Regions from separate parts of the Homo sapiens genome. Here regions 1, 2 and 4 are each linked to region 3. The links come from fine-mapping of genetic effects on gene expression. A gene starts in region 3. Each other region holds a variant in brackets. All regions are shown on one strand. Distances are between the middles of the regions. Region 1 overlaps FAM149A (family with sequence similarity 149 member A). Region 2 overlaps F11-AS1 (F11 antisense RNA 1). Region 3 holds the start of CYP4V2 (cytochrome P450 family 4 subfamily V member 2). Region 4 holds the start of LOC124900873 (a long non-coding RNA gene).

Region 1 (2,686 bases), 27 kb before region 3:
GAGCACTGAAGACTGCAGGGGACATGAGATCACGAAGGTCCCATTTAATCCCGTGCTTCAGATGTGCCTGAGCACGTCTGGAAGAGCAGAAACAGACCCTTTAGTACCAACCACAAAACAGTTACTATCGTGTATTTGGTAGGGAGAGATGGGGAAAGGGGAATGTAGTCCTGAAATTCTTAATCTTGTGGGCTTGACTGTTTGATTACTGACAGGGAAAACCTTAGCCCTCTGCCTGTGGATGATTCTTCATTGAAACAGAAACAGAAATGATGGGTCTTTTCATTCATTCAACCCGTGCTTAGGAGTATGTTCTAGGTGCCAGACTGTTCTAGGCAGTGCTCAACTAAGCACAGACAGGTGCGTTCCCTGTTATCACAGCACTCGCAGCTGAGTAGCTCACAGGATTTCCTTCCCAGGAATGAGAAGGAGGACAAAGCATCGGGTGGAGGGGCAGGTGCTCTCTCCTCCGCACCGCACAGACTGGGACGGGCCTCAGACACTCATGGATTATCACCTTCTGCAAAGAAAACACCAGTGCCCTGGAGGCTGCCTTCTCTTGCTTCAGATTCACAGAGACTAAAAACTCCCAACATCTATAGTGACGAAGTTCTTCGGGGAACAAAACTGTGAGTCTCATTTCTTTCATAGTAAACTAAAGGCCACGGAGGACCTAGATGCTTCTCAGTTAGGGTTTATGGATCATCCTGGACAAAGCATCCCTACCTAGTTTTACATAGATGCTTTTCTAATGAGTTCATTGAGCATTTAACATTCCGCTTGCTCCAGTGGTCTACTTAGCTGTATCCTAGGACACAAGGTCAGGCAATGTCCCTGTCACACAGGCGGAATGAGCCTCTGATGCTGGGGGACCTTGGGTGGATTTCAGTGGCCTCATCTGTGAAACAAATAATTAGCTAATGCCTTTCAATTACATAATTAATACTTTTCAAGGGGAGGTTTAAATAAAATAATGTATATAAAATGCTATAAAAATAAAAGGACTGTGTCCCTATCGGATTATCTTTAAGGATGCATTTTTCTCTATGTGGGAGTTTCAGCAAAGCTGTTGATTGCAGGATTCACATCCCGTCATGGCCTCGTTAGAAAGGTGCCTGTCTCTTGCCCTCCAGCTAACTTACCAGTATCGGCCAATACTTACATTGATAATAATAGCTAATGTTTATTGATCACTTTCTTTGTTATCAGCGCCAGGTAAATGAATTACATTTATGATCTTATTTATTCCCCACCACAAAACTTTATATTG[T/A]TGGGACTCATACTATCCCAAATCTGAGATGAGGGAACAGGCTAAGCCTGCCGGAGATCATCCCCGCCAGGAAGAGGCCCAGCCGGACACACCCACAAGTGCTCTCAGGCTTTAGAGACCACCCACTGGACCCCCGGCCTGCAGGGGAGCTGTTATCAGGAGCCGAGCTCAGGAGCGGGCGGCTGCCAACGCTTACCTGGCACCCAGACTTTTTCCAGATGCAGTCATAACCCCCCTTTCAGCTTTTTAATTGGTGACTGTTTCTTTCACAGTTTGGGACTGATGTTTCCAGCTGTGTTGGGTCTGCTGTGCTGATTCCTTCGAGATCCCTCTCCCTCCTCCGCCTCGCTTCCCCCCATGCCAGTCAGCAGCACACGGTGCCAGTCAGCAACACATGGCAGGCTTTCTCCTCCTGCCCCAGCCTACCTGGGCCCCCTGTCACACCTTCATCAAATAGAAACCCATTTATGTTTCCTACTGAGATACATTCAGATGCCACTAACTGTACAAATCCCTCTGTGTTCTGACCCCTCCCTCCCTGTGGGCTGCTGATTTTTCAGCTTTCTTTTTATTATTGCCACCCTGAGGAGCCCTTTTCGACCATTCTTCCCAATTGCTCTCCCTACACATGGAATTGTAGTCCCACAGACAGCCTGTTTGTCTGTGTGCATAGCTGTGCTCTACACATACGAGGGAAGCTGTGGCTTCAGAGGGGCCAGTGCCCACCCCCTTTGGTGATGCTACCTCACCTGTGTCCCCCGGCTTCTCACCCGCCTGGATTCTCACCTGCCAGCCTCACTTTCCCTCTGACCCCCCCACACACCAGCTCTGCGTCTTCTCACCTCCATCCTCTGTCTTTCACTTGTATTGAGATAACATTTTCCCATAGTTATCAGAGTGCTATAAGTTCCCTGGGGAGCATCCGGATAATACCACACATAGCAGAAATCAAAGACCTCCTGTGTGCCCCTCACGCAGAAACATTGAAATCACAGCTCTTGGCAGATTTCCTGTCACTTGCCAGTTATCCATGTACCTGGGTGCTCAGTGACATGATGATGTGTTGCAGGCCGACTGGCGTGGACCACATGGCTTCCCCACTGGTTCAAACGTCACGGAGCAGGTTCCCCCCGCTAGTCACGGAGACCAGGGGGCAGAATACAGCAGTTCCTGGATGCCGCCTTGTTTCTGTAAGACAGATTTCATTCTATTTCAGTGGACCATTTAGGTTCTGTATTGGAAAACAAACAAAAACAACCTTGGCACTTCCAAGTGAAATTAGTAACATGAGATCTGAGTAGCTGTATTCAAATGCCTTCATAATCTGTTTCCAGAAAGTAAATGAATGGCTTATGAGAATTTACAGGGAGTGAGAGGCTTAATTCACCGTTTTGTGAAATAAAAGCATGTCTTGAA
Region 2 (2,686 bases), 110 kb after region 3:
TGAAATTCATTGTCCTACTCATTATCCAATTTATCCAACAGTAATCATTACGATTGATTTCCAGGCCTGTAACTGCCTATTTTCATGGCCTGTAGAGAGGGGAGTATAGGGTGCAGGCAGGAGTGTCTGAAGGCATGGAAGTCTCTGCCTGGGCATTAACAAAATGAGTGGAAAAAGCAGACAATTGCATCTGCGGGCATTGATATCTCTTATCTGCACGTTAGACTTAGTTTTATGAGTAACTAAATTGAGTTGAGACTCTTAACTGATGTTCAGATTCACTGCCAGCACTCCCCACACATACCAGGAAACACCCTGTGTTCCAGTGGGCAGACCCATGCAAGCCCACCCCCAAAGCCTGGGGGTGCAGAGAGGCCGAGGAAAGAGGCTGACAAATCCAGACTCTCAGAAAGGAGCGTTGAATAGGGACTTATCCCACAGCTGCCCTCCAGAAAGCTTGCTTGCTTTTTCTTTCTTTCTTTTCTTTCTTTCTTTCTTTCTTTCTTTCTTTCTTTCTTTCTTTCTTTCTTTCTTTCTTTCTTTCTTTCTTTCTTTCTTTCTTTCTTTCATCTTTCTTTCTTTCTTTCTTCCTATCTTTCTTTTCTTTCTTTTTTGATATGGAGTCTCGCTCTGTCACCAGGCTAGACTGCAGTGACGCGATCTCAGCTCACTGCAACCTCCGCCTCCCGGGTTCAAGTGATTTGCACCAGCCTCCCGAGTAGCTGAGGCTATAGGCGCCCACCACCACACCCAGGTAATTCTTGTATTTTTAGTAGAGACGGGGTTTCACCATGTTGACCAGGATGGTCTCAATCTTTTGACCTCGTGATCCACCTACCTCGGCCTCCCAAAGTGCTAGGACTACAGGCATGAGCCACCGCACCTGGCCCAGAAAACGTTCTTTCTATAGCAAGCTTTTATAAGACTGATGCACCAGACCCTCTTGCAAAACTGCTGACCAGTGGGGAGGTTGAATAAGCATCTTTATAGGGGTCATCTATGCCCCAGGCACTGTTTGTTTATAGGGGTCGTCTATGCCCCAGGCATTGTTTGTTTGAAGGGGTTGTCTATGTCACAGGCATTGTTTCTGAGGAACTAATTGGTGAGCAGGGGTCCGACAGTCACTTCAAGATGGCCTTACTCTTGCCGTGCACTGATCTCGCCACTCAGAAAATGCTCAAAGGCCACTTTTTGGTGCACACAGGAAAGGTCTCTTCTATTCAGCTGAATCAAAACATTTGAAATTGGCTGTGTTTGTTTTCAGATCTGTTCAGGTCAATTTAACAATTATTGTAAAGAAGTAA[C/T]TTACTTATAATTACATAAGCCCCAACCTGAAAGAATTCCCAATAACCAAAACTGGAATAACTTGAGTGACAGAATGAATAATCTAGCATTGGATTACATCTTAAAGTAAAAAATAAATATCCATGAGTTCATACTGATACAAAATGATTGAATGAACAAAATAATGAGAGAGAAGAGAGAAATCCGCTGTACAGGATTCCGGGTAAGTTACACCATTTCTCCTCTCTCAAGGATGTGGAGCTTAACCCTCTATCCCTTGCTTAGGGAGTAGAGCATGGATAGGAGTGAAAAGGTAATTTACAGAGGAGAAACAGGCTAGTTGATGAGGTAACATCATCAGTGGTAAGTCATCTTGATAGTGTGCACTGTTTAACAAGCAGATTTATTGATACATAATTCATATATACCCAAACTTCCATTTAAAATGACGATTCGGTGATTTTTAGTATATTCTCAGAGTAGTGTGATCATTAATCTAATTTTCTATCATCTTCATCACTCCCCCAAAGAAACCTCATACCTATGTGTAGATTTGCCTCTTCTGAACATTTTACATAAATGCAATCATACAACATGGGGTGTTTTGTGACCTGTTTCTTTCACTTTCACCTTGTTTTCAAGGAGGAACCATGTTCTAAAGCCTGTACTTCATTCCTTTTTATTGCCATATAATAAAAAGGAATTGCCCTTGTATAATTATACACATTTTATTTACCCATTCATCGATGGAAATGTGGGTTTTCTCACTTTTTGGCCATCATGAATAATGCTGCTATAAATATTCATGTATGAGTTTTTGTGTAGACACGTTTATCTTTCTGTTGAGTGTGTAGTACCCAGGAGCAGAATTTCTGGGTCATATGGGAACACTATGTTTCATATTTTGAAGAATGATGTTTTTGAAAGCAGCTACACCATTTTACATTCCCACCAGCAATGTCTGAAGCCTCCAATGTCACCACATCCTGGCTAACATCGATGATTCCGTCTTTTTGATTCTAAGCCCACCTTAGTGGGTGTGAAGTGGTATCTTATTGTGGTTTTGATTTGCATTTCCCCAAGGATTAATGATGTTGAGAACATCTTTATGTGTTTATCAGCCATTAGTACATCTTCTTTGGAGAAATATTTATTTACTTATTTTCTCCATTTTTAATTGGGGTATTTTCTTTTTATTACAAAGTTGTGAGTTCTTTACATATTCTGGATACTAGTCCTTGTTAGATACATGATTTGCAAATATTTTATGCCATACTATGGGTTATCTTTTCACTTTCTTGATGGTATTTTGTGAAATACAGAAGTATTTATTTTTGATGATGTCCAGTATATCTTATTTTTTCTTTTGTTGATTATAATCTTGAAGTTGTGTCTAAGGAAC
Region 3 (2,686 bases):
GCCTGGTTTTATCCACAGAGGTTAGCAGAGACTGATACAGACAAACCCTTTTTCTTTCTAATTTTAGATTCAAGAGCACATGTGCAGGTTTGTTAAATTTGCCTGACGCTGAGGTTTGAGTTTCTATTGATCCCCTCACCTGAATAGGGAACACAGTACCCAATACACAGTTTTTCAACCATTACTCCCCTTCCTTCCTCCCCCTATTTTAGAATCCCCAGTATGTAGACAAATTGTTTACTTTTATAGCTGTAATTAACCTTATTATAGCTCAGCCTCAACCCTTTAGAGAGGAGGAAACTAAAGCCCATGAGACTTGCTTAAAGATACTAAGTGAACATATTTATTTTTTAAAGTGTTAAAGTGATTAAACAATGTAGACGTGAATGAAATAAAAAGCGTAAGTTCCCCATCTTCATTCCCACTCCATAGAGCTGATCAGTATTTTTACTTGCAGACATTAGTGGAGCCGTAGAGAAAGAAACCTTTTCTCCAAAAGAAGGCATTACTTTACACACTCCGTTCTGCAACTTGTTTTGTTCACTTGCTATTTCACGTCAGCCCATGCAGATGACTTAAAACAAATTCAAATGGAGAAAAGCCTTAGGCATGTTTTTCTCTGCACTAAAGAGGCCCTGCAGGTGGCTGTGGCCAACTTATGCAGTGGCTTCGAGTGAACGAACGTAATTAGTAATTAAGCAAAGCGGGCATCCAGGACATTCAGTTTCATCTTCCTGGCACTTTAGTGTTTAGGAAGGGCCTGGCCTCTCGGGGAGCGACACTCCTCGCCCGGCCACTTTGTAAGAAGCATCGAGCGTGGAAAAGGGGCTGGGGTCAGCACTGGGGCCCTCTGCCGGGAAGAGAGACTGGCGGCCAGCACACGCGTCTCCCCAGGCTGAAATGGGGCACCCTCTCGCGGCCCTTCCCTCCCTTCCCGGGCTGGGTGGCAGGTCTTGGCTCTTCTGCGAGTACCCCGCGGCTGCGGTCTCCCGGCACCCGCTGAGCAGCCTCGCCCGCCTTCCTCTCCCACCCGCCCCTGCGTGCTCTCCGGGGCTCCGGCTTCCTCGGTCTGGTGCCTGGTGCGTATTTTGGAAAATACCTGGCTCATAACCACCTCATTGAGCTCCCAGTGTCCCAGTGGGCCAGCGGACACACACGGGTAGCTGACTTCCCTAACGTGTCCCCAAAGCCTCCCTGGATTACAGCGCCCGCTGCTCCATGTGACCCCGCGGGAGCCAGGACGCGCCCCGCCTCCCGGGGCTGCAAGTTGCGCAGGGAGCGAGCGATGCGCAGCAGAGCTGGGCTCCGAGCCGGATGCGCCTTCCTTTCCTCTCCAGAGCAGGCTGCCCGCCCGCGGAATCCCGCACGTAGAGCAACCTCGCAGCACCCTCAGAACAGCCCCGCTGGGGCGCGCCGGGCTGCCGCGGTGACCTTTCCGACGCCCCTGACCCCGCATCCGGAGGCGGCCGGAAGTGTCGCCGGCCTCCTCCCGGCGCAGCCTCCGGGCCTCCAGTGCAATCACTACGCCCTGGGGCCCGGAAACCGTTTTCCGGTCTTTCGCTTTCGGCTGGGGCGTGGAGGCCGCGGTGCTGCGTAGGCCGGGCCGGGCGCAGGAACAGCCCCGTGGCGCCCTCTCTGGCCGCCGCCCGGGCGGGAAACGTCGTTCCGGGGACCGGGCGACCCCGCAGCGGGGAGCGCGCCAGGTCCGCGCGGGGAAGTGGGCGGTGTGCGGCCGGCACCGCCTCGCACCACGCCCCCGCGGGCCCGCACTTTCCCGGAGTGCACCCCGCGGCCGCCAGCCGGGGCGATGGCGGGGCTCTGGCTGGGGCTCGTGTGGCAGAAGCTGCTGCTGTGGGGCGCGGCGAGTGCCCTTTCCCTGGCCGGCGCCAGTCTGGTCCTGAGCCTGCTGCAGAGGGTGGCGAGCTACGCGCGGAAATGGCAGCAGATGCGGCCCATCCCCACGGTGGCCCGCGCCTACCCACTGGTGGGCCACGCGCTGCTGATGAAGCCGGACGGGCGAGGTAAGGGCCGGCGCTCCTCCTGGAGCGCAACGGGGTCCGCAGCCCCGTTCCCACCCTCCGATCAGCCAGGAACCCGCTGCTTGTGGCGCTGGCCGCAGGAGAGAGGAGCCTGTCACCCTGTGGAGAATGCACTCCCAGTTCTAGTCGTTGCCCCTTGGCACCCGCCGACACTGCTAGTGCCCCATCCCAAAGTGAGCATTTTCTTTGTGTGTAGCACAGGATGCGGTATTTCCAAACCCCTGCCCTCGGTCTTTTCCCACCTCACCGCTGCTCAGCTCTCAAAGCCCTGCCGTTTCCTCCTGCCTTGGCTTGGGAAGCCTTAGGAACAGAAGCTCCCTGGGAGCACAGAGCGGTTTTAAACTGGCCAACACCTTAACGCCCAGAGCCGCCCTCCTCTCGCTGCCACTTTGGAAAATAAGAGACTAGAGATTCACTGGACGCTTCCTCCCGGCATCACAAGACTTGACTGCTGCTTCAGTTCCCGCTTGACCTTCATACTTTAGCCCTTTAAAGGATGTTACATAATAACAATTAAGAGACGGCAGGGCCTTCAGGCAGACTTCTTTGGAGGGTGTCAAACGCCTTGTTTATTAAAGAGTGAATTTTTTAATTAAAATCATGTTTTAAAACAGAGATGGACATTTTATTGATGGAAAAAAATCACG
Region 4 (2,686 bases), 47 kb after region 3:
TGGATTGTATTTACTTCAAGCAGAGTTCGATAATTTATGTACATAATAAAAATTTTAAATCCCTTAGTTAATATAGCAGTTGCCAAAACTGGGCTATTATCATTCTAAACTACCAACCCAAATGGTAGTGGGTATCTAATCTACCTCTAGAAAGAAAATGGACTGTATTTGCTCTATGTATTTTTCTTGTACAGCTTGCCATCGAGACATTTATAAAGGAGTTGATATGAGAGGAGTCAATTTTAATGTGTCTAAGGTTAGCAGTGTTGAAGAATGCCAAAAAAGGTGCACCAGTAACATTCGCTGCCAGTTTTTTTCATATGCCACGCAAACATTTCACAAGGCAGAGTACCGGTGAGTACAATTCAAGGTGTGTGTTCTTTGTATTGGTGCCTCCAGGATTTCACTGTATTCTTCTTAACCTCTTTTGTTCCCAAACTAAAAACCAAACAGGGCTTTTATTCTAACCACTTTCCTCATTTACTTACTCTATTTTATTTTTTTATCTTTTATTTATTTATTTATTTATTGAGATGGAGTCGCGCTCTGTCGCCCAGGCTAGAGTGCAGTGGCGTAATCTCGACTCACTACAACCTCCGCTTCCCGGGTTCAAGCGATTCTCCTGCCTCAGCCTCCCGAGTAGCTGGGATTACAGGCGTCCGCCACCATGCCTGGCTAATTTTTGTATTTTTAGTAGAGTCGGGGTTTTACTATGTTGGTCAGGCTGGTCTCGAACTCCTGATCTTGTGATCCACCCACCTCAGCCTCCCAAAGCGCTGGGATTACAGGCATGAGCCACTGCGCCTCGCCCTTCATTTTTTAATTAAATAATTCATTTAATTTCATTTGTTTCTCTACTCTTTTCCCCTGGCATGTAATTGTACCGCATCTTCAAAGCCTGACATCCTCTTCCCCTACTTCTCCAAAGCTGATTCTTGCAGGTCTTTCCTCAAATACCGTCCCCTCCAAAAGCCCATTTCTGAGCATTCTCTTTTAAGTCACACTCAGCTCTGTTTATTTCATTCATAGAGCTAATCACAATTTGATATTAACTTGTGATTTTTTTCCTTATTTTTAAATCTTATTTTTATTTGCATAGATGTATGGGGTACAAGTGTAATTTTGTTACTTTGATGTATTTTACAGTGGTAAAGTCTGGGCTTTTGGTATATCCATCACTGGAGTCATGTACATTGTACCCACTAAGCTATTTTTCAACGCCCGCCCCCTTCCCACCTCTCTGTCACCTTCCCAGTCTCTACTGTCTATCGCTCCATGCTCTACTCAATTTTGGTGTCATTTTTTCCTGAAGCAAAATTTTGGTGTCATTTTTTCTGAAGTCATTTTCTGAAGTCTGTGTCATTTTTCGCTTTCCTGAAGCGAATTTTGGTGTCATTTTTCCTGAAGTTCCGTTTGCCCCACACATAGGCCTTGCTTATAGAATGAGGGTTTAGTGTCACGGAGTCTCCTGCCTCATTCTCACCCTAACTTTTCCTTTACCCCTTTGCGAGGGGAAGGATGTCCATTAGGTTAATAATGCA[G/C]ACCCCTAACCCACTCATTATCAGGGTCATTGTTTTTCCACTGTGCATTTTAATACTAACTGTTACCTGCACTGCTCCCTGCCCCTCAAAGTGCAGAAAGCAAAGTAACCTCTTTTCTTCCCATTCAGGAACAATTGCCTATTAAAGTACAGTCCCGGAGGAACACCTACCGCTATAAAGGTGCTGAGTAACGTGGAATCTGGATTCTCACTGAAGCCCTGTGCCCTTTCAGAAATTGGTAATTGTAGGACTACTTCACTTTGTGATTGTGGTAGGTGGAATAGGAGCCCCCAGAGACGTCCCTGTGCTGAGCCCTGGGACCTGTGCGTGTGTTCCCATAGCTGGCAAAAGCGTTTCTGTCAATGGCATGCAGTTACGGGCTTCGAGATGGGGAGTTTACTCTGGATTTTCTGAATGGGCCCAATGTACTCACAGGGTTGAGTGCTCACAAGGCTCATAAGAAAAAGAGAGAGGCGGAAGGCTCAGAGCCAGAGAGAGAGGTTTGAAGGTATTACACTGCTGGCTTTGAAGATGAAGGTCCGTGAGCCAAGGAATGCAGGCGGCCTCTAGAAGTTGAAAAGGGCGAGGAAAGAGTTTCCCTGTGGAGCGTCCTGGAGGAAGAAGCCCTGCTGATGTCTTGATTTTAGCCCAGTAAGACCCAATCTCTAGAACAGTAAGATAATTAATTTGTGTTGTTTTTAACCACTAAGTTTGTGGTTATGCCCCTAGAGCAGCAGTTATAGGAAACTAGTACAGTGATACTGTTAGAGTTATAGGACAGTGATATAGGACAGTGATACTGTTATAGTTATAGGAAACTAGTACAGTGATACTGTTAGAGTTATAGGACAGTGATATAGGACAGTGATATTGTTATAGTTATAGGAAACTAGTACAGTGATACTGTTAGAGTTATAGGTACAGTGATATTGTTATAGTTATAGGAAACTAGTACAGTGATACTGTTACAGGTACAGTGATATAGGACAGTGATACTGTTATAGGAAACTAGTACAGTGATACTGTTAGAGTTATAGGTACAGTGACATAGGACAGTGATACTGTTATAGTTATAGGAAACTAGTACAGTGATACTGTTAGAGTTATAGGTAGAGTGATATAGGACAGTGATACTGTTATAGTTA

The links. PIP is the estimated chance that this variant, and not a neighbour inherited with it, causes the effect. A credible set is the group of variants that fine-mapping cannot tell apart.
Region 1: its variant is the best candidate, but not a certain one, in a credible set for the expression of CYP4V2 in whole blood (INTERVAL, PIP 0.79).
Region 2: its variant is the best candidate, but not a certain one, in a credible set for the expression of CYP4V2 in esophagus mucosa (GTEx, PIP 0.83).
Region 4: its variant is the best candidate, but not a certain one, in a credible set for the expression of CYP4V2 in pancreas (GTEx, PIP 0.54).

Annotation. Positions count from the first base shown.
Region 1 is chr4:186,163,005-186,165,690 of GRCh38, forward strand. It overlaps FAM149A (family with sequence similarity 149 member A), which reads left to right. Exons shown (of 14, transcript NM_001395294.1): 10 at 420-629; 11 at 2,340-2,460. Among named protein-coding and RNA genes, the nearest start is that of FLJ38576, 27 kb to the right of the region's middle. The variant T/A (reference allele first, on the strand shown) is at 1,271.
Region 2 is chr4:186,299,258-186,301,943 of GRCh38, forward strand. All of the region lies in intron 1 of F11-AS1 (F11 antisense RNA 1), which reads right to left. Among named protein-coding and RNA genes, the nearest start is that of F11, 34 kb to the left of the region's middle. The variant C/T (reference allele first, on the strand shown) is at 1,305.
Region 3 is chr4:186,190,017-186,192,702 of GRCh38, forward strand. It overlaps CYP4V2 (cytochrome P450 family 4 subfamily V member 2), which reads left to right and starts at 1,551. Exons shown (of 11, transcript NM_207352.4): 1 at 1,551-2,021. The coding sequence starts at 1,808. It overlaps FLJ38576 (a long non-coding RNA gene), which reads right to left and starts at 1,474. Exons shown (of 1, transcript NR_046264.1): 1 at 1-1,474. RefSeq lists a silencer at 1,348-1,877.
Region 4 is chr4:186,236,587-186,239,272 of GRCh38, forward strand. It overlaps KLKB1 (kallikrein B1), which reads left to right. Exons shown (of 15, transcript NM_000892.5): 5 at 195-354; 6 at 1,670-1,779. LOC124900873 (a long non-coding RNA gene) reads left to right here and starts at 1,819. Exons shown (of 2, transcript XR_007058497.1): 1 at 1,819-2,459; 2 at 2,579-2,686. The variant G/C (reference allele first, on the strand shown) is at 1,542.